Regions from separate parts of the Homo sapiens genome. Here region 1 is linked to region 2. Evidence: fine-mapped expression QTL. A gene starts in region 2. The other region holds a variant in brackets. All regions are shown on one strand. Distances are from middle to middle.

The links. PIP is the estimated chance that this variant, and not a neighbour inherited with it, causes the effect.
Region 1: its variant is fine-mapped to the expression of LINC03019 in sun-exposed skin (GTEx, PIP above 0.99).

Annotation. Positions count from the first base shown.
Region 1 is chr8:12,781,230-12,791,211 of GRCh38, forward strand. LINC03019 (long intergenic non-protein coding RNA 3019) reads right to left here. Exons shown (of 5, transcript NR_152742.1): 2 at 7,103-7,215. Among named protein-coding and RNA genes, the nearest start is that of LINC00681, 8.0 kb to the right of the region's middle. The variant T/C (reference allele first, on the strand shown) is at 5,647.
Region 2 is chr8:12,806,956-12,816,937 of GRCh38, forward strand. It overlaps LINC03019 (long intergenic non-protein coding RNA 3019), which reads right to left and starts at 4,523. Exons shown (of 5, transcript NR_152742.1): 1 at 4,425-4,523. All of the region lies in intron 1 of LINC00681 (long intergenic non-protein coding RNA 681), which reads left to right.

The DNA.
Region 1 (9,982 bases), 26 kb before region 2:
TATACCAATACCATGCTGTTTTGGTTACTATAGTTTTGTATGTATTTTGAAGTCAGACAGTATGATGCCTTCAGCTTTGTTCTTTTTGCAAAGGATTGCTTTGGCTATTTAGGGTTTGTGTGTGTGTGTGTGCACGTGCGTGTGTGTGTGTGATTCCATACAAATTTTAGGATTTTTTTCTATTTTGGTGAAAAATGTCATTAGTGTTTTGATTGGGATTCCATTGAATCTGTAGATTGCTTTGCATAGTATGGTCATTTTAACAGTACTAACTCTTCCAATCCATGATTATGCTATGTCTTTCCATTTTTGTGTATGTATCCTCTTCAATTTCTTTATCAGTGTCTCTAAGTTTTCATTGTAGATGTATTTCACATTTATTCCTAGGTATTTTACTTTTCTCGTCATAAATGAGATTGCTTTCTTAATTTACTTTTCAGCCAGTTCATTCTTAGTGTGTAGAATTGTTGCTATTCTTTGCATGCTGACTTTGCAGCCTGCATCTTTACTAGATTTTTCTAACAGTTCTAAGAGTTTTTTGGTGGTGTCTTAGGTTTTCCTACATATAAGATCATGTTGTCTGCAAAGAAGGACAATTTTACTTCCTCTTTTTCAATCTGGATGCCCTTTATGTACTTTTTTTTTTTTTTTGCCTAAGTGCCGTGGCTAGGACTTACAGTACCATGTTGAATAACAGTAGTGAAAGGCAATTTTGTCTTGCCCTAGTTCTTAGAGGAAAGGCTTTCAGCCTTTCTGTATTGAGTATAGTAGCTGTGAGTTTGTCATATACGGCCTTTATTTTATTGAAGTATGTTCCTTCTATACATAACGTTTGTAGAGTTTTTATCATGAAAGATGTTGAATTTTATCAAATTATTTTTCTGCATTTATTGAGATTATCATACATTTTTTGTCCTTTATTCTGTTGAAGTGTAGAATTACAAGTACTGATTTGCATTTGTTGAACCATCTTCGCATCACTGGGATAAATCCTACTGGGTCATGATGTATAATCTCATTGTGTTGTTAGGTTCAGATTGTCAGTATTTTGTTGAGGATTTTTGCATCTATGTTTTCTTTATTTGTTGTGTCCTGGTCTGGTTTTGTTATCAGGGTAGTGGTGGCCTCATAAAATGAGTTAGGAAGAATTCCCTCTTCTTCAATTTTTTGAAATAGTTTGAAAAGAATTGTTGCTCATTCTTCTTTAAATGTTTGGTAGAATTTAGCAGTAAAGCCATCTGGTCCTGGGCTTTTCTTTGTTAGGAGGCATTTTACTACTGATTCAACCTTGTTACTTTGGTCTGTTATTGGTGTGTTCAGGTTTTCTGTTTCTTCCTAGTTCTATCTTGGTAGGTTATGTCTGTCCAGGAATTTATCAATTTTTTTCTGAAATTTCCTAAATTTGATAGGATTTCTATTTTTTATATTTGTTGAGATTTGTTTTGTGGCATAAAATATGATCTATCCTAGAGAATGTTTCATGTGCTGATGAGAAGAATGCATATTCTATAACTGTTGGATACAATGTTCTGTAGATGTCTGTTTGGTCATTTAGTCTATAGTGCAGCTTAATTCTATGTTTCTTGATCGATTTTCTGCTTACATGACCTGTCCAATGATGAAAGTGGGATATTAAAGTCCCCAACTATTATTGTATTGGTAAGTATCTCTCTTTATCTCTAATAATGTTTGCTTTTAATATGTAGGTGATCCTGTGTTGGGTGCATATTCATTTACAATTGTTATATCCTCTTGCTGAATTGATCCCTTTATCATAACGTAATGATTTTCTTTGTCTCTTTCTATTTATTTTTTTGACTTATAGTCTATTTAGTCTGATATAAGTTTAGGTGCTCCCACACACTTTTGGTTTCCGTTTGTGTGGAATACCTTTTTCTAACCCTTTACTTTCAGTCTGTGTGTGTCTTTACAGGTGAAGTGCATTTCTTGTATATAGGTGGGTCTTCCGTTTTTAAATCCATTCAGTGAGTCTGTATCTCTTAAATAGGAGATTTAAATGGTCTACATTCATGATTGTTATTGATAGGTGAGGACTTACTCCTGTTATTTGGTTAGTTGATTTCTCATTGTCTCATATATCCTTTGTGGCCTTTTTCCTCACTTGTTTATCTTTGCAACTTGGTGGTTTTCTGTAGTGATAACCTTTTATTCCTTTCTCCTTCTCACTTGTGTATCTGTTCTACCAGTGAGTTTTATGCTTTCATGTTTTTTTTTTTTTTTTTTTTTTTTTTGATGGTAGATACCATCTTTTAGCTTCTGTTTGTAGGACTTCCTTAAGCATCTGTTATAGGGCTAGTCTAGTGGTGATAAATTCCCTCACATTTTGCTTCTCTGGCAAAGACTTCATTTGTAGCTTTATTCCTGAATTATGGCTTTGCTCAGTTTGGTGTTCTTGACTAGCAGTTTTCTTCTTTCAGCACTTTGAGTCTATCATCCCATTTTCTCTGGCCTGTAAGGTTTCTGCTGAGAAATCTGATATTAGTCTGATGGGGATTCCCTTATGTGTGACTTGATGCTTTTTTACTTGCTATTTTTAGAATTCTCTCTCTACTTTTTGACGTTTGACAATTTGACAATAATGTGCCTTGGAGATGACATTTTTGGGTTAAATCTATTTGGGAATGTTTAAACTTCCTCTATCTGCATTTCTATAACTCTTCCAAGACTTCAGAAGTTTTCTGCTATTTTTTAATTAAATAGGCTTTTTATGCCTTTTCTCATCTTTTCTACTTCTGGAGCGCTCATAATTTGAATATTTGTTCCCTTGATGTTGTCCTATATGTCACATAGGCTTTCTTTATTCCTTTTTATTCTTTTTGTTTATTTGTTTGACTGGGTTATTTTAAAAGACCTGTCTTCAAGTACAGAAATTCTTTCTTCTGCTTGATCTAGTTTAATACTGAAGCATTCAATTATATTTTTTATTTTATCATCAAATTCTTCAGTTCTAGGATTTCTGTTTGGTTCTTTTTAATAATATCTATCTGATATGGTCTGGATCTGTGTCCTTACCCAAATCTCATGTCAAATTGTAATCCCCCATGCTAGAGGTAGGCCTGGTGGGAGGTGATTGGATCATGGGGACAGTTTCTCATGGTTTAACACCATCCCCTTTGGTACTGTCATGATGAGAGTGGGTTATCACAAGATCTGGTTGTTTAAAAGTGTGTAGTATCTCCCCCTTTCTTCCTCCTGCTCCAGACATGCGAAGTGCTTGCTCCCCCTTTGCCTTCTGCCATATTTGTAAGTTTCCTGAGGCCTCCCCAAAGGCCAAGCAGATGCCACCATTATGTATCCTATACAGCCTGTGGAGCTGTGAGCCAATTAAATTTCTTTTCTTTATCAATTACCCAGTCTCAGGTATTTCTTTGTAGCAGCACAAGAATGGACTAATACACTATCTCTTTGAATTTTTCCATTCCCATTATGAATTCTTTTTTAAAATGTCTTTGTTTTGTTTGTATTCTTATGCCTCACTGTTTCCTTAAGAAAATAATATTTTAATCATTAATATTATCTATCAATTCATTAATAATTATATTTTCATTAACATCAATACTATTTTATTATTAATACAACTATATTAATAATATTTTGAAATCCTTTTTAAGAATTTTATGTTTTTTTTCTTTAGGATCTGTCACTGGATAAGTACTATGTTCCTTTGGTGGTGTCATGTTCCTGGCTTGTTCATGTTTTTTGTGTACATACACTGATATCTACACATCTGGTGTAACAGTCACTTCTTCCAGTTTTATGCAGTAGTTTTCACAGTGAAAGACTTTTTCCTGCAGACATATCTATACTGTCAGTTGGGTAGAGCACATTAGGTTTGGTTGCAGTGGGTGTCATAGTGTAGTTCCTATATGATTTCTTTGACTGTATCATTGTCAGTGGTGTCTGTGAGTTTCTTAGTAGCTTAGGTTACAGTTGTTTATGAAGGCTGTGGTGAGACTTTTCTGGAGCCTGGGGTGCTAGATGGGCTGGTTCTCAGGACCCTGGATTGTGCACATGAGCACAGACTATGGCATCAGTGAGCCCTGGTAAGGATCATTTCCAGGGTCCATTAGCAGCACGTGCAGGTGCCAGTGGTGGATTGGCTTTTGAGTCTCTCGGAGGCACACTCGGGTCTGTGGCAGCCCTGCTGCTGGAGGGGGCAAGGTAATTGGTGGTGGTGGCAGCCCCTGGCAGGTGATTCTCAGGCTTTGGGGAGTACAAGCTTCAGCTCCATAAATCCTAGGGGCAGCCTCCCTAATATGCAAGACCACCTGTTTCCCAGAGTGTAGGGCACTGTGGGGGCTTGGGTCTCTGGCATGCAGTCACACTGCTGGGTCCAGCTGGTGTCATGATGCTGCAGCCCTCTAAGTGGATATGAGGGGAATGTTGGCTGGGCCTCAGGGATGTGGAAATGTAGGAGTTCTTGGACCCCAGGGCAGGATGTAGCCTGGTGTTTGTTCCATTCTTAAAATGGTGTCATGTGGCAGCAGCCTGTGTTCTGTAGGGTGAGTGGAACCCAGTGTGAATTCCCTCTTCAGGACAATGTAATCACATGGACTCAAAGCAGCTCCCTTTACTAAGCACTGGGCTTTTGAGGCCCGAGTGGCTTTCCTGTCACTACGATTGCAGGTGTGTGTTATGGGAATGTGGACTGTTGGAGATCTCTTGCAAAGGGAATCCTCACAATGGGGAACCCCTCCTGGCTCTGGCCAGCTGCTCTGCTGCCCTCTCTAGGCTATCATCTTGAGTTTCCCTCCTCAGAGGGTCCTTGTCACTTCCCTGCTGAATTCTAGTGTTCTCCCTTACATACTCTATTCAGCATACTCTACTCACCATTTTGGTCCTTCTTTGAAGAGGAGATTAGTGCCGGACACCTCTAGTCAACTGTCTTAATCACATAGGGTGGTATTGTTCTGCCTTTTATATTCTTGCAGAAAGTGGTATATGATGCTGGGCTCAGTGGGTCACACCTGTAATCCTAGCAATTTGGGGGGGCCAAGGTGGGAGGATTGCTTGAGCACAGGAGTTCAAGGGCAGCCTGGGCAACATGGTGAAACCCTGTCTCTACAAAAAATACAAAAATTAGCCAGGTATAGGTGGCATGCCCCTGTAGCCCAGCTACTTGGGAGACTAAGGTGGGAGGACGGCTTGAGCCCAGGAGGTAGAGGTTGCAGTGAGTTGAAATTGTGACACTGCACTCCAGCCTGGGCAACAGAGCAAGGCTCTGTCTCAAAAAAAAAAAAGTGGTATAGGGAAGAGAACTATTTGCACCTCTATTAGGCATTCATAGTCTTTTGATTCTTAATAGGAATTGACCATATGACAGAACCTACAAACTCAAAATTAGTTATTGATGCTTATATGGCACCTGTATTTTAATTTTAATACCATGGCTAAAACGAAAGTGAGCAGGAGGGATCCCCAGGTGTAGAAGATAAATCTTGAGTATTTAGAAAAAAATTCTTTTGGGCTTCTTTTGTAGTGATTTTAAACCATTTTTATTTATGTTGGTGCCAAGTCTTACTACCTAGTAAAAAGCAAATTGCCCCACCCAGGCCTATTGAATCAGAACCCTTGTTTCAACAAGGCCTCCAGGTGATTCTGATAAATACTAACATTTGGAAACAA[T/C]TGCCATAAAGACTAGCACAATAAGTATCCTCAGAGCACTGGTATTATCTTTGGATTCTCACAACAGTGGTCGATTCTGACATTTAAGTATCTTCTGATCAAATAGTTTTAACATTAAGTGTGCCAATATTAAAAAAAAAATCATATCTCTGAAAACAATTTTCTAAATTCAATCAGTTCAAACATAGAAAAAACTTCACAGAACAGACTAAATCATTACATTGTTCTTTAAAGAAAACATGCAAAACGCCAACACAAGAAATGTATGAAAGTGAAGGGTTCTGGTTGAGTGATGGTGGGAGACCTTAAGTCTTACATCTTGACAAACTCTACTCCTGGACCTAAATTTGGACCCTTCTTTGTCTCTGTGACAGCCTCTGGGATGCCTCTCTGGAGGTTCCACAAGATGCACTTTGAAAATCATTAACTCTTGGATTAGTCACCTGACCCTTAATTATATACTGCCTTGGCCTTGTATCTTCTTATAGTTTCGTTCTGTGTTGTTTTATTATTGCCTTTGATTACTTACTTTTTGCATGCTTGTGGTCTGAGCCCCTTCATGTAGGAGACAGGAAAAAAAGCCACAAAGCCCTGAATGTCTTATGAATTGTAAACAGGTACAGATAGCAGTCATATAATCAACCAATATAGCCAGCAAGCTAGACAGGAACTACAGGCAGGGGCTCTGTGTGCAGTACATTTCCTGTATTTTCCATAGTTTCTCAACTATATGGAAGAAGGAATACAACTGGCATTAAGAAGACATACCCCAGAAAGATGATAGAGTTAACAGCTATTTATCTGGTTCTTGACTTCAATAAAAAATCAGTTAGGACCACTATTTTTCTCTTATGGACCCCATATTTAGGAAGATTTTCTCCATGAGAATAACTATAGTATGCTAAGTAATACATTAGTTTTCCCCATTTTACTTAATAGATCATGTATTCTCAGTGGAAGCAAAAATTGGTTCTTCTGGTATGAGTGAATACATCTTACTCTTTTTTTTTTTTCGAGAGTGAGTTTCACTCTTGTTGCCCAGGCTGGACTGCAAAGGCGCGATCTCGGCTCACTGCAATCTTCGCCTCCCGGGTTCAAGCCATTCTCCTGCCTCAGCCTCCCTAGTAGCTGGAATTACAGGTGCCCAACACCAGTCCCAGCTGATTTCTTGGATTTTTAGTAGAGATGGGGTTTCCTTATGTTGGCCAGGCTGGTCTCGAACTCCTGACCTCAGGCGATCCACCTGCCTCGACCTCCCAAAGTGCTGGGATTACATGCGTGAGCCACTGCGCTGGGCCCACCTTACTCTTTTATACATAAAGCACAGTGCATCTATTGTACTAAAATTTCAAGGCAGTCATTAAAAAAAAGTCTAAAAGAATTCTTAGGGGAAAAAGGTAATGATACACTCATATAAATGACTTCCAATTAGAACTTTTGATTTATATGAACTTACCAGTATTCTCACAGTGAGTTGGAATTTCAGTCAAAACAAAATAACATCATATTTCAGTCTGTGGGTAAATGTAATTGTTCATTCATCAGTGAACACTTTGCTTGCCAGTAGTGCTGAAAGCATGGAAGAAAAAAGAACAATTGAAAAACTACTGCAATAGTCCAAGTAAGAAATGGTGGAGACTGGACTAGGATGTTCAGATTTGAGATGTATTTTAAAATATGCCTTCTGAAAAAAATTCAAAACAGCTCAATGCCCTCATAATAAAGGATTCTACGTTGGGAAATACTGTATGATGCCAAAGTTCTAGGCCTTATTTCAGGGGGATCTTTGCCTGTTTGTACACATGTTCCAAAAAAATTCTTCCTGGCATCATCATTCTTTAGGCTGGCAGAGAAAAACAAATCAGCAAATCTCACATTTTCCTTTATGGGAAAATTTTGTTTGTAGTTGGACCTAATTTCTATTCGGGTAAGGAGTGGCTCTTATTCAAAGACAAGCTTTGTATATTTTGTTACACAAATGACCTTTATTTTTGAAGCTGTCAACAACATTTTCATAATTGCAAATGGTCTAGGTTGATTAACCTGCTATATTTTGCAGATTTTACAGTGCATTTGTATTTGCACTGCTAAAAAATTACATAATGAGCATCAATAAGTCTTCCCATGCAATTTTTAGCTCACTCCTGGCATTGATCAACTGTTATGCTTAGTGTGGTGTAAATTTCTTCCTGATAAACCCAACTTCGGCCCTGGGCTCTATTTTTCCAACGGCTATTAATCAACTTTGCCAGCTGCTTTAGATTCTTTTTGGAGATAGGATGTCATAAATAAGTAAAAGTAATCATTGTTTCATCCAGGAAGTAAAGAAGTGCAAGCTAGAATACGTGCAAGACAGCATGGTTGGGTCATATGTGTGCAGATGAGAAAAGACCAATTCTCCTCTGTGGTTACATGGGTCATATTGCCTGTATATCACTCTCTTCTGCAGTCTACCAAGCGTTATAAACAGCATGTGATCCATGGGTCTGCTATCAAAACAAATACATTTCACGAGATGTGAAGCGTCATTTAACTTGAGCAATGACTTGAGATTATTACTTAGGGTTTAGATGGAATGTTTTCTTAATGGGCCAACGTCTTTTGCAAAAAATAGGACTCACAGAGGAACACATAGCAAGACATTTTATTTATTTTTTTGAGATAGGGTGTCTGTTGCCCAGGCTGGAGTGCAGTGGCATGATCACAGGTCACTGCAGCCTCAACCTCCTGAGCTCAAGTGATCCTCCTACCTCAGCCCCCTGAGTAATCCCAGCCTCCTGAGCTGCATTGCCCTATGTTCTCCCCATGTTGCCCAGGCTGGTCTCGAACTCCTAAACTCAAGTGATCCTCCCCGCTCTGCCACTCAAAGTGCTAGGATTACAGGCGTGAACCATCGCACTGGCCCAACAAGTCTTTTTAAACAGAGACTTAAACTGGTTTCCTCATTCCTGAAGTCCAAATAAATTATATTGCTAAGTAATATGTATATAATATATGTTGAGGAAGTATTTGTACTCTATGTTAAAGATATCGTTTGCTATGTCTTTGTGTGAATTCAAATATATTTTAAAATATTTATAAAGGAAGAATAATTTGGCTCATCTTACACCTCAGATAGAAAAATTATCTGGCAGTCCTGAGACTGGGAATGGTTATAAAATGTTTAACAACCTACAGACCAGAAGATAAAAAGCTAAGAGGCAACTTACATTAAAAGTACTGCAGCGAGCACATCATAGGAAAAGAGCCGTGTCTCTCCCATTCTCCCTGGGAGTGTAAGGGACTGGAGATTTAGGGGACGAATTATGCATGTAAGGGTAAACTCACTTGAGCTCATGGTGCTCAAGAGAAAGTCTCCTGAACAGAAGCCAGCAGGGCAGTTTCTTCTTGCACGTAAAGAATTGTGGTGGATGCGATTATGTTTATGATCTTTGGGTAAGGACATGGAGTAAAGAAAGGTACAAGGGAAGATGGGATACTCCAAGATTTTGGTATACTCTTTGTATTAGTCTGTTCTCATGCTGCTGATCAAGACATACCCAAAACTGGGCAATTTACAAAGGAAAGAGTTTGGCTGGGTGAGGTGGCTCACACCTGTAATCCCAGCACTTTGGGAGGCCGAGGCGGGTGGATCACGAGGTCAGGAAATCGAGACCATCCTGGCTAACACGGTGAAACTCTGTTTCTACTAAAAATACAAAAAAATTAGGGCGTGGTGGCGGGTGCCTGTAGTCCCAGCTACTCGGGAGACTGAGGCAGGAAAATGGCGTGAACCCAGGAGGCGGAGCATGCAGTGAGCCGAGATCGCGCCACTGCACTCCAGCCTGGGTGACAGAGCGAGATTCTGCCTCAAAAAAAAAAAAGAGTTTTACTGGACTTACGGTTCCACATGACTGGGGAGGCCTCACAATCATGGCAGAAGGCAAGGAGGAGCAAGTCACATCTTAGGGGGATGGCAGCAGGCAAAGAGAGAGAGCTTGTGCAGAGAAACTCCTGTTTATAAAACCTTCAGATCTCCTGAGACCCATTCACTATCACGAGAACAGTACAGGAAATACCCAACCCCGTGATTCAATCATCTCCCACTGGGTCCCTTCCACAACAAGTGGAAATTATGGGAGCTACAAGATGAGATTTGGGTTGGGACACAGAGCCAAACCATATTACTCCTGTTATGGCAACTAAAAACAGAAGGCAAAATGCTTTCTGGCCACAAAAAGAACAAATCCCTAAATCTTAAGTTTTAACTGCATGTCTAGTACTTAAAATCATGTGAGGGGTTTTACATGGGATAGCCCTAGAATGTGTGGCGTGTAACTATTTTATTTACAAACGA
Region 2 (9,982 bases):
TGAGACCACCCCAGGTAACATGGCAAAAACCCACCTCTACTAAAAATACAAAAAATTAGCTGGGCGTGGTGGCGGACGCCTGTAGTCCCAGCTACTCGGGAGGCTGAGGCAGGAGAATGGCATGCACCCGGGAGGCGGAGCTTGCAGTGAGCCGAGATCGTGCCACTGCACTCCAGCCTGGGCGACAGAGCGAGACGAGACTCTGTCTCAAACAAACAAACAAACAAACAAACAAACAAACAAAAAAAACATTAGCCGGGCATGGTGGTGCACTCCTGTGGACCCAGCTACTCGGGAAGCTGAGGTGGGAGGATTGCCTGAGCCCAGGAGGCTGAGGCTGCAGTGAGCCGTGATTGTGCCACTGCACTCCAGCCTGGGTGACAGGAGTGAGACTCTGTCTGAAAACAAAACAAAACAAAAACAAAAAACCAAACTCAGCAGTGAAATCTACAAATCTGCCTTTGCCTTCCCCAAACTTTATTTTCCATAGTCTCGCATATGTGTGACTCTCTCTCAGTTATCCTATCAAAATTCTTTGGTTTTAGTTTCTTCTTGAAACAATTAATTTGGGCTAGAGTCAACAGAACACCAGAGCTACTTGGAAAACAACAAATTAATCTCATAATTACCATAGAAAACATTAAAACCAGAAAAAATATATTAAGAATATGCCTATAGAAGTTTATTTTTTATTATTATTATTATTATTATTATACTTTAAGTTTTAGGGTACATGTGCACAATGTGCAGGTTAGTTACATATGTATACATGTGCCATGCTGGTGTGCTGCACCCATTAACTCGTTATTTAGCATTAGGTATATCTCCTAATGCTATGACAAACCCACAGCCAATATCATACTGAATGGGCAAAAACTGGAAGCATTCCCTTTGAAAACTGGCACAAGACAGGGATGCCCTCTCTCACCACTCCTATTCAACATAGTGTTGGAAGTTCTGGCCAGGGCAATTAGGCAGGAGAAGGAAATAAAGGGTATTCAATTAGGAAAAGAGGAAGTCAAATTGTCCCTGTTTGCAGACGACATGATTGTATATCTAGAAAACCCCATTGTCTCAGCCCAAAATCTCCTTAAGCTGATAAGCAACTTCAGCAAAGTCTCAGGATACAAAATCAATGTACAAAAATCACAAGCATTCTTATACACCAATAACAGACAAACAGAGAACCAAATCATGAGTGAACTCCCATTCACAATTGCTTCAAAGAGAATAAAATACTTAGGAATCCAACTTACAAGGGACGTGAAGGACCTCTTCAAGGAGAACTGCAAACCACTGCTCAATGAAATAAAAGAGGATACGAACAAATGGAAGAACATTCCATGCTCATGGCTAGGAAGAATCAATATCGTGAAAATGGCCATACTGCCCAAGGTAATTTATAGATTCAATGCCATCCCCATCAAGCTACCAATGACTTTCTTCACAGAATTGGAAAAAACTACTTTAAAGTTCATATGGAACCGAAAAAGAGCCCGCATGGCCAAGTCAATCCTAAGCCAAAAGAACAAAGCTGGAGGCATCACGCTACCTGACTTCAAACTACACTACAAGGCTACAGTAACCAAAACAGCATGGTACTGGTACCAAAACAGAGATATAGATCAATGGAACAGAACAGAGCCCTCAGAAATAACACCGCATGTCTACAACTATCTGATCTCTGACAAACCTGAGAAAAACAAGCAATGGGGAAAGGATTCCCTATTTAATAAATGGTGCTGGGAAAACTAGCTAGCCATAAGTAGAAAGCTGAAACTGGATCCCTTCCTTACACCTTATACAAAAATTAATTCAAGATGGATTAAAGACTTAAACGTTAGACCTAAAACCATAAAAACCCTAGAAGAAAACCTAGGCATTACCATTCAGGACATAGGCATGGGCAAGGGCTTCATGTCTAAAACACCAAAAGCAATGGCAACAAAAGCCAAAATTGACAAATGGGACCTAATTAAACTAAAGAGCTTCTGCACAGCAAAAGAAACTACCATCAGAGTGAACAGGCAACCTACACAATGGGAGAAAATTTTTGCAACCTACTCATCTGACAAAGGGCTAATATCCAGAATCTACAATGAACTCAAACAAATTTACAAGAAAAAACAAACAACCCCACCAAAAAGTGGGCAAAGGATATGAACAGACACTTCTCAAAAGAAGACATTTATGCAGCCAAAAGACACATGAAAAAATGCTCACCATCACTGGCCATCAGAGAAATGCAAATCAAAACCACAATGAGATACCATCTCACACCAGTTAGAATGGCGATCATTAAAAAGTAAGGAAACAACAGGTGCTGGAGAGGATGTGGAGAAATAGGAACACTTTTACACTGTTGGTGGGACTGTAAACTAGTTCAACCATTGTGGAACTCAGTGTGGCGATTCCTCAGGGATCTAGAACTAGAAATACCATTTGACCCAGCCATCCCATTACTGGGTATATACCCAAAGGACTATAAATCATGCTGCTATAAAGACACATGCTCACGTATGTTTATTGCGGCACTATTCACAATAGCAAAGACTTGGAACCAAGCCAAATGTCCAACAATGATAGACTGGATTAAGAAAATGTGGCACATATACACCATGGAATACTATGCAGCCATAAACAATGGTGAGTTCATGTCCTTTATAGGGACATGGATGAAATTGGAAATCGTTCTCAGTAAACTATCGCAAGGACAAAAAACCAAACACCAGATGTTCTCACTCATAGATGAGAATTGAACTATGAGAACACATGGGCACAGGAAGGGGAACATCACACTCTGGGGACTGTTGTGGGGTGGGGGGAGGGGGGAGGGATATGCCTGTAGAAGTTTAGAAATATTTTCTGTAATAAAAAGAATGACGTTTATATCCTACGGCATAGTATACCCAGAAGGAGGCAAAAACGCTATTGAACAGTGAGAAAGAACATTGCATATTCTCATTTTCAGCGGGAAAGAAAAGCTTTATCAGAGGCAGGCTGTTTTAAGGATTAATGTTCCCAGATGGAGATAAATCTTAACTATTGAAATAGTGTTTTCTCAGATCTAGTTTAAAAAGTGTTCGCTTCTGGAAATCTCTTACTTGTTCCTTTGTTTATAATTATTTTGAACATTTGCTTTCTGTTATCTGTGAAGAGATTTGAAAAGAGCAGGTCTTTTGGATGGTTGCTTTAGGAGTGACCTCCCTTGGCTTAAACAGGCATTTGTTGGATAACATCTCTGCATGATTTTTAAAAGTTAGCAGAAGTGAGAAGGGTAATTGAAGTTTCCAGAATCAAGAAAAACTACAAAAGAAGCTCATTTTTATAAATGCTATTGTCTTATATAACCCCCTGGAAGACACCCAGTTCTCACTTCTAAGAGCTCTCATGAGTCAGTTTGTCATTTGATATTTTGTAGAGTTTGCAGTAAATTAGAAGACGTGAATTCTTCTGCTTAACTTCAATGACAAACTATTTTGTACTTTAGTTCCTTAAGAAACTAAATAGAGGGAACCTTTTTTATCTCTTTCCTATCTATGTCCAACCTACTCCCAACTTCTAGAACAGTTTCTTGCATGTAGTGAGTGCCCCATAATTGTAGAATTAAATCGAATTTGGGCAATTTTTCCTTCTTTTGAAAATGAAACTAAAAAAATATGAAGCCAGGAAGTTTTACCAGTCTTCCCCACAACCACCCACAGACATCAGGCTCTCAAGCATCTGCCTTTCCTGGGCTGGGGAATGAGTATCCTGTCTTCCCTCCCCTTCCTTCTTCTCCCTTTGCTCTTCCTGCTCCTACCTCCTCCTCTTTCTCCCCTACCCGCTCCTGTTCCTTCCCTTTCTCCTCTTCCATAACCTAGAAGTTTCTAACCAAGAAATCTATACACACAAAGAACAACTGCCAATGGGAAAACAAAATATCACTTCATTAAGAGCTAGGCAAGGACTCAATCATCCCAATGCAACGCTCTCTAGCAAGAGGAATTTGGATAATAAAGTTGAAGTAAGGAAGCCTAAGTCCCTGTGCCTGACTCTAAGATTATCAGGAAGCCCACTTATGCTCCAAAACACATCAAAAACGATATAAGAAGGCCGGGCATGGTGGCTCATGCCTGTAACCCCAGTACTTTGGGAGGCTGAGGTAGGCAGATCACTTGAGATCAGGAGTTTTAGACTAGCCTGGCCAATACAGTGAAACACTGTCTCTACTAAAAATACAAAAATTAGCCGGGCGTGGTGGTGCATGCCTGTAATCCCAGCTACTCAGGAGACTGAGGCATGAGAATTGCTTGACCCCAGAAGGTGGAGGTTGCAGTGATTGTGTCAAGATTGTGCCACTGCAGACTGGCCTGGACAAGACAGTGAGAATCTGCCTCAAAACAAACAAACAAACAAAAAAAAAACATGTAAGAAGATCTTACAGCAAGTCAGCAGGGTCCACCAAGGTCTTTGGCCAGAAGCTGAGAGTTTACCATGTGGACACAGGAAACAGCAGTAGAGTGACTCGGGTGGGTTTGTCCTTAACCACTCAGGAATTTCAGCAATTCCGACCATGGGTAAAACCCAGTGCAGTGACACTCTCATGTTCTCACCGACCAGGAAACCACTTACTCTGCTTTGGGGAGGAGTTAGTGCAGGACTGGGCGTGGGCAGAAGAATGGACACATTTTGCTTCCCTCATGGACCGAGGTGGGAAGTGGGAAGGGGAGACTAAATGTTCCTGGACAGGAAAGCATAAATCCAGAGTTGGAACGTGAGTTTATGATCTTACTCTATTTCTATTTTACAGAGGAAACCAGTCGACAGAGCTGTGATTTGCCCTGTGATTTGCCCTGGGCCTTCCCACAATTCTAGAAACCCATGACTTGACATCATTGCGCGGCCACCTGACTCCCAGCTGGCTTCAGCCTCTCCGTTTCATCTCCCTCTACTCTCACTCTGCTGCTACCAAGTCAGACTTCTTTTCAGGTCCTTAAACAATCTCTGTACTTTTCCATCTCCGTGTCTTTGATGACTTGATTCCCTTTCCTCACTCCATCATTAACATACGTACCCCTCAAGACCCAGCTCAGATGCCACTTCTATGAGACACTCTGTTTCTGTGCCAGAAACAGTTAAGCCTTTATTTGCGTGTCCAAAGTGTGCCCCAGAGCAAGGATCTGGCAATCGGCATTTGAAACCTGGCTCCTTGGCTTCTTAGCTCTGACCTTGAGCAAATTACTTATTTTTTTGTTGTTGTTACTCAGTTTCCTAAAATATCATATAGGGACTTGTCATGTCATGTTAATGGACATAATATAAATTAAATAGTATAATGGCAAGTATCCATCGGTCACCAAAAAGGGAGCCTACTATTACTGCCTGTAGCTATATTTTAGCATTGATGACAAAATATGGTAAATTATATCTATTTGTAGACCTAAGTTATCCCTTCCCATTGATTATTCACTTGCTGAGACTGCAACAATAGCTGCCCATTTTTTTATCTCTTCCATCCCCACCCAGCTGTCTTGCACAATATACAAAGTCAATACATGTCTGATCAACGGAATGGACTTAATCTGCCAAAACAGACCTGACTCTCTATCAGTGATACAGGAGCTAAAAAGAAATTATTTAGGCAGAGAGTGAGAGTAAGGGAGTCCTTGGCAAGGCTTCCCTTTTAACAAAAAGCAGCCCCCAGATAATTTCTTTTCTAACAAAAAGCAGCCTGTAAAATCAAGCTGCAGACATAGATAACCAAGCTGGAAGCTTGCACAGGTGAATGACGGCGGCTGTGCATTGCAATAGGGGAAGCCTACCTGGGGGCCAGGTAGGTTCAACATGGAGGCTCCATCTTCGCTTTTCTTTGTCACCATGTGTACAGTAAAGAAACAGGCAACATGGCGCTGGCCAGGTAGAGAACCAACTGCATAATTAAAGATTAGGGTGGGGTGGCCAGCTATGCAAATGGCACACCTGGTCTCACCAATCTCTCATGCCCTATATAAATCAGACACCGCCTCCTCAAGCTCATCTATAAAATCTTATGCACTTGGCTGTGAACCGGAACACCTGCTGGGGTGCCCCTCTCTCTCTCTGCAGGAGAGAGAACTCTTCCTTTTCTTTCGCCAATTAAACCTCCACTCTTAACCTCACTGTTTGTGTGTCTGCGTCCTTGATTCCCTTGGCGCAAGGCAACAAACGTTGGGTATTACAGACCAATGATGCCGCTTCACCAGCTCATATATGGCAAAAACTGCAATAAGTTTTGCACCAACCCTAATGCTAAATTATTAATTACTACTTACCTAAAAAAGAGAACCATATAAATTAATTAGTATTGTACAACACTACATGTATTTAGTCAAAATACCAGATAACCTAACTTTATATTTATGTATACATCACATGTATTTTTAAAATTAATTCTTCACTTTAGTGAAGTATTATAAACTGTTAATCATTCATCCTAACTTTTGCTTAGCCTTTGAAGTTCAGACCTCTCCAAAATTTTTTCCTCCACCTGGTTAAGAACTATTTTCTTTGGACTTAATCTGGTTTTTCTATTGTAGATCACATCTAATCAAGGTAGTTGAATAGACTCAACAAACCAGTAAGAGGTTGTTGAAGTATCATTCATAACAAAAGGTAACAACAGTTCCTTATAGGCCATATCTCATGCCTTCTGTTTTACTGGTGCAAGTTTGTGCCCCAGGAGGGTTAGGAATGGCATCTAACACCCCCGTGGAGCAGACAGACCCCTTTTGTAAGTGTGTATTTGTTTCAACCACATGCCTTAAGCTCAGTTTAAAAAAATAAAATTAAAAAAAATTTATGTGAGTACAGAAAGTTTGCATCACATTCACTCTACAACATCTTTAAAGGCAGCGATTATTCCAGAACACAGAGGAGACAAACAAGGCCCCTTTGTTCCAGGAGTGCACTCCTTAAAGAGCAGTTCCAAGCCCATCAGTCTGAAGGGCCAGGCAGTTGGCCCCGGGGGAGCCTGCCAAACACCCAGAGATGCTTCCCGGGAATCTTCTGCTGCTGCTGAAGTGTTGACAGGCTCTTGAGCTGAGAGCTCAGGCTGTTGATAGGAATATATAGCTCAGATAGTCAGAAATCAACCTACTCAAATTTCTCAGACCATTCTCTCCTTCGTTTCTGTCTTTTTAACAATCCAAGTACAGATTTTCTTTTAAAAACCTTCTTCCAAAAAAATGTCTACGTTCCTGCTTCCTCCTGGGGGTAACGAAATAAAAGGCTTAAGGTGCTTTAAGGAAAATGGAGTCAGTTCCCCTCCCTTCAGCCCTCAAGTTCTGCTGATTCCAAGGGGTGGGTGGCGAGGGCCAGCAGTTGGCGGCACCCACTCCCTGTCTCCTCTCACTTGGTATCTCCCTGGCCTCACGCTCAATCAGGTCTTCCGTGACCACACAGGGAAATGAAGAATACTGTTCGCTTACGAAGAATCTGGGAATCCCTGCAGTCCATGATTTTCTTTTTTCTATTTTACTTTCTTCTCAAAAGCCTTTTATTTTCTAAAAGCACATACAGTATAAGCCCATTCTGATGATTTTAGGAGCATCCATTCCTCAATGCAAAGATATTAATGCTAGATAATAAAGCTCTGAGTTCATACATTTAAAAGTCGAGAGAGTGAGGAGTGAGGGGAGAGAGAGGGAGCAGAAAACGCTAGCTGCCTTAATACTCATTTTCCTCTTCTACAAACCCTTGATATTTAGCTAATGTACCCTACCTTTCTCAAGGTCCCCAGCAGCTAAGGAAGGCCATGTGACTAATTCTGGCCAATGGGATGTAAGAAATTCAAAGTGCATTTCACAGAGCATGTTAGGAACACGCCCATTCTTCCAGCCCTTCCTCAACCCTGGTGTTCGTACCAGGGACTTGGTGTCAAAGGCAACGTCCCAGAAGAAACCTCATGCAATGCAGTGACAATATCAGTCCTGGAAACCCTATCTCTGGACTCTGGGATAAAAGAGCAATACATTTCTATATTGTTTATACCACCGTTAATTTGAGTTTTAATTTTATTTCATGAACCCAGTCATATTTTAAGCCAAGGTGGATTTCCCACAAAGCTAATGGAGCAGAAGCTTTAGAAACCCTCACTTGCGTCAGGCGTGGTGGCTCACGCCTGTAATCCCAGCACTTTGGGAGGCCGAGGCAGGTGGATCACCGGAGGTCAGGAGTTCAAGATCAGCCTGGCCAACATGGTGAAACCCCGCCTCTACAAAAATACAAAAATTGGGTTGGGCATGTTGGTGTGTGCCTGTAATCCTAGCTACTCGGGAGGCTGAGGCAGGAGAATTGCTTGAACCTGGGAGGCGGAGGTTGCAGTGAGACAAGACCACGCCATTGCACTCCATCCTGGGCAAAAAGAGCGAAACTCTGCCTTAAAAAAAAACAAAAAACAAACAAAAAAAACAAAACCCTCACTTGCCAGGATGACTCCAAAGCCTGAGGAGGAACCCCGACATTGGGGTCACATGGTCATCTTATATTCTTTTCTTTAAAAGGTTCCTCAACTGCATAAGCCTCACACCTCATCCATGATAAGCCAGTGAGTCTTTCCACGTGTGCCTCTTGAGTGGGGCAGCGCCATTCTGGTCAGCCCACCTTACATGTAGCACAGTAAATAGTTCACAGTTTCTCCTGCATCAGATCATCTACTTGGTGAAATTTAGGAATAGCACAGCCCATTGTTTCCCAAAGTACATTCCTAGATATTAATAATTGTTATAAGAGAAAAGAGTAACAGAAAAGTATAATATTAGCTAAGATGTTTTTGTCTATGTTTTTAACTACAATATTTCTCAGAGGAAGCAATGTGGGAATGTGCATAGTGAATATCCCAGCACAAGAGAAGGCTGTATTTCCTAAACGTATTGGACCACCAAACCCCCTTTTTAAGTAGTTGGTGGGTTATATTTTTGTGAAGCATGATTTGAAAGCACTCTCCTGGTCTCAGTAGCAAATATTTGTTGACTATCTCTTTGGGGAAGTTAAGTGTTTTATTTTTGTAGCATTAGTGGAAGAAGGTAATTTTTCTTCCTGATTTTATTGTTTATAATTGCTCCCTGTCTGGAGTTTGCTAATCAGTAAGCATTGATTTCAACAATATTGTCATTTCTGCATTGACACTGATGCATCTCTCAGGTCTCCAACAAAAGCTAAGAGTGACATGTACAAAATGTTAGATCACCTGTGGAGGAAAGGGTGTGAGTTCAAGGGAGTCGGAGTCACACTGAGGTTTCATCTCCTGTGAGGAAGATCTTTGATGGGGGGATACAGAAAGCTACAACCACGATGGAGACGTAGTTCTGCAGAAAGGACCCATTTCTGTGCTTATGTCAGTGCTTGGAGAAATCTCCAGGCTCATTTATGTGAGCCACATTTTCATTACAGGAAAATAATTGACACCATGCTTCTTGGCTTTAACTGAAATTTAAGCATTTACACCTGTATTCATCTTCTAGGGTTTCTACAAAAAAGTATCATAAACTGCATGGCTGCATGTACCCTACCTTTCTCAAGTTCCCCAGCAGCTAAGGAAGGCCATGTGACTGATTTTGGCAGAAATTTATTTTTTCACAGTGCTGGAGACTGGAAGTTCAAAGCCAAGGTGTCAGCAGTCCTTGCCTCCTCCTACCTTCTGGTGGTGGCCATTGATTCTTGGCATTTCTTGGCTTGCAACTGCACCACTTGAGTCTCTGCCTCTTTCCTCACATGGCATTTTCCTCTTACAGGGGTTAGGAATTCAACATACTTTTTGGAGGGGGCACAATTCAATCCATAGTAACACCAAAGACTCCTTAATTTTCTGTAGGGCAACATAATGTCATGATGGACAGAGCTCTGAGTTAGGAGTCCGAAGGCCTTAGTGGGCACTTAGCAAATCTCTAGGCTACATTTCTATATATATAAACAAGGATAACAATACACTCCTTGACTTCCCTGTAAGGGTTGTAACAAAGAT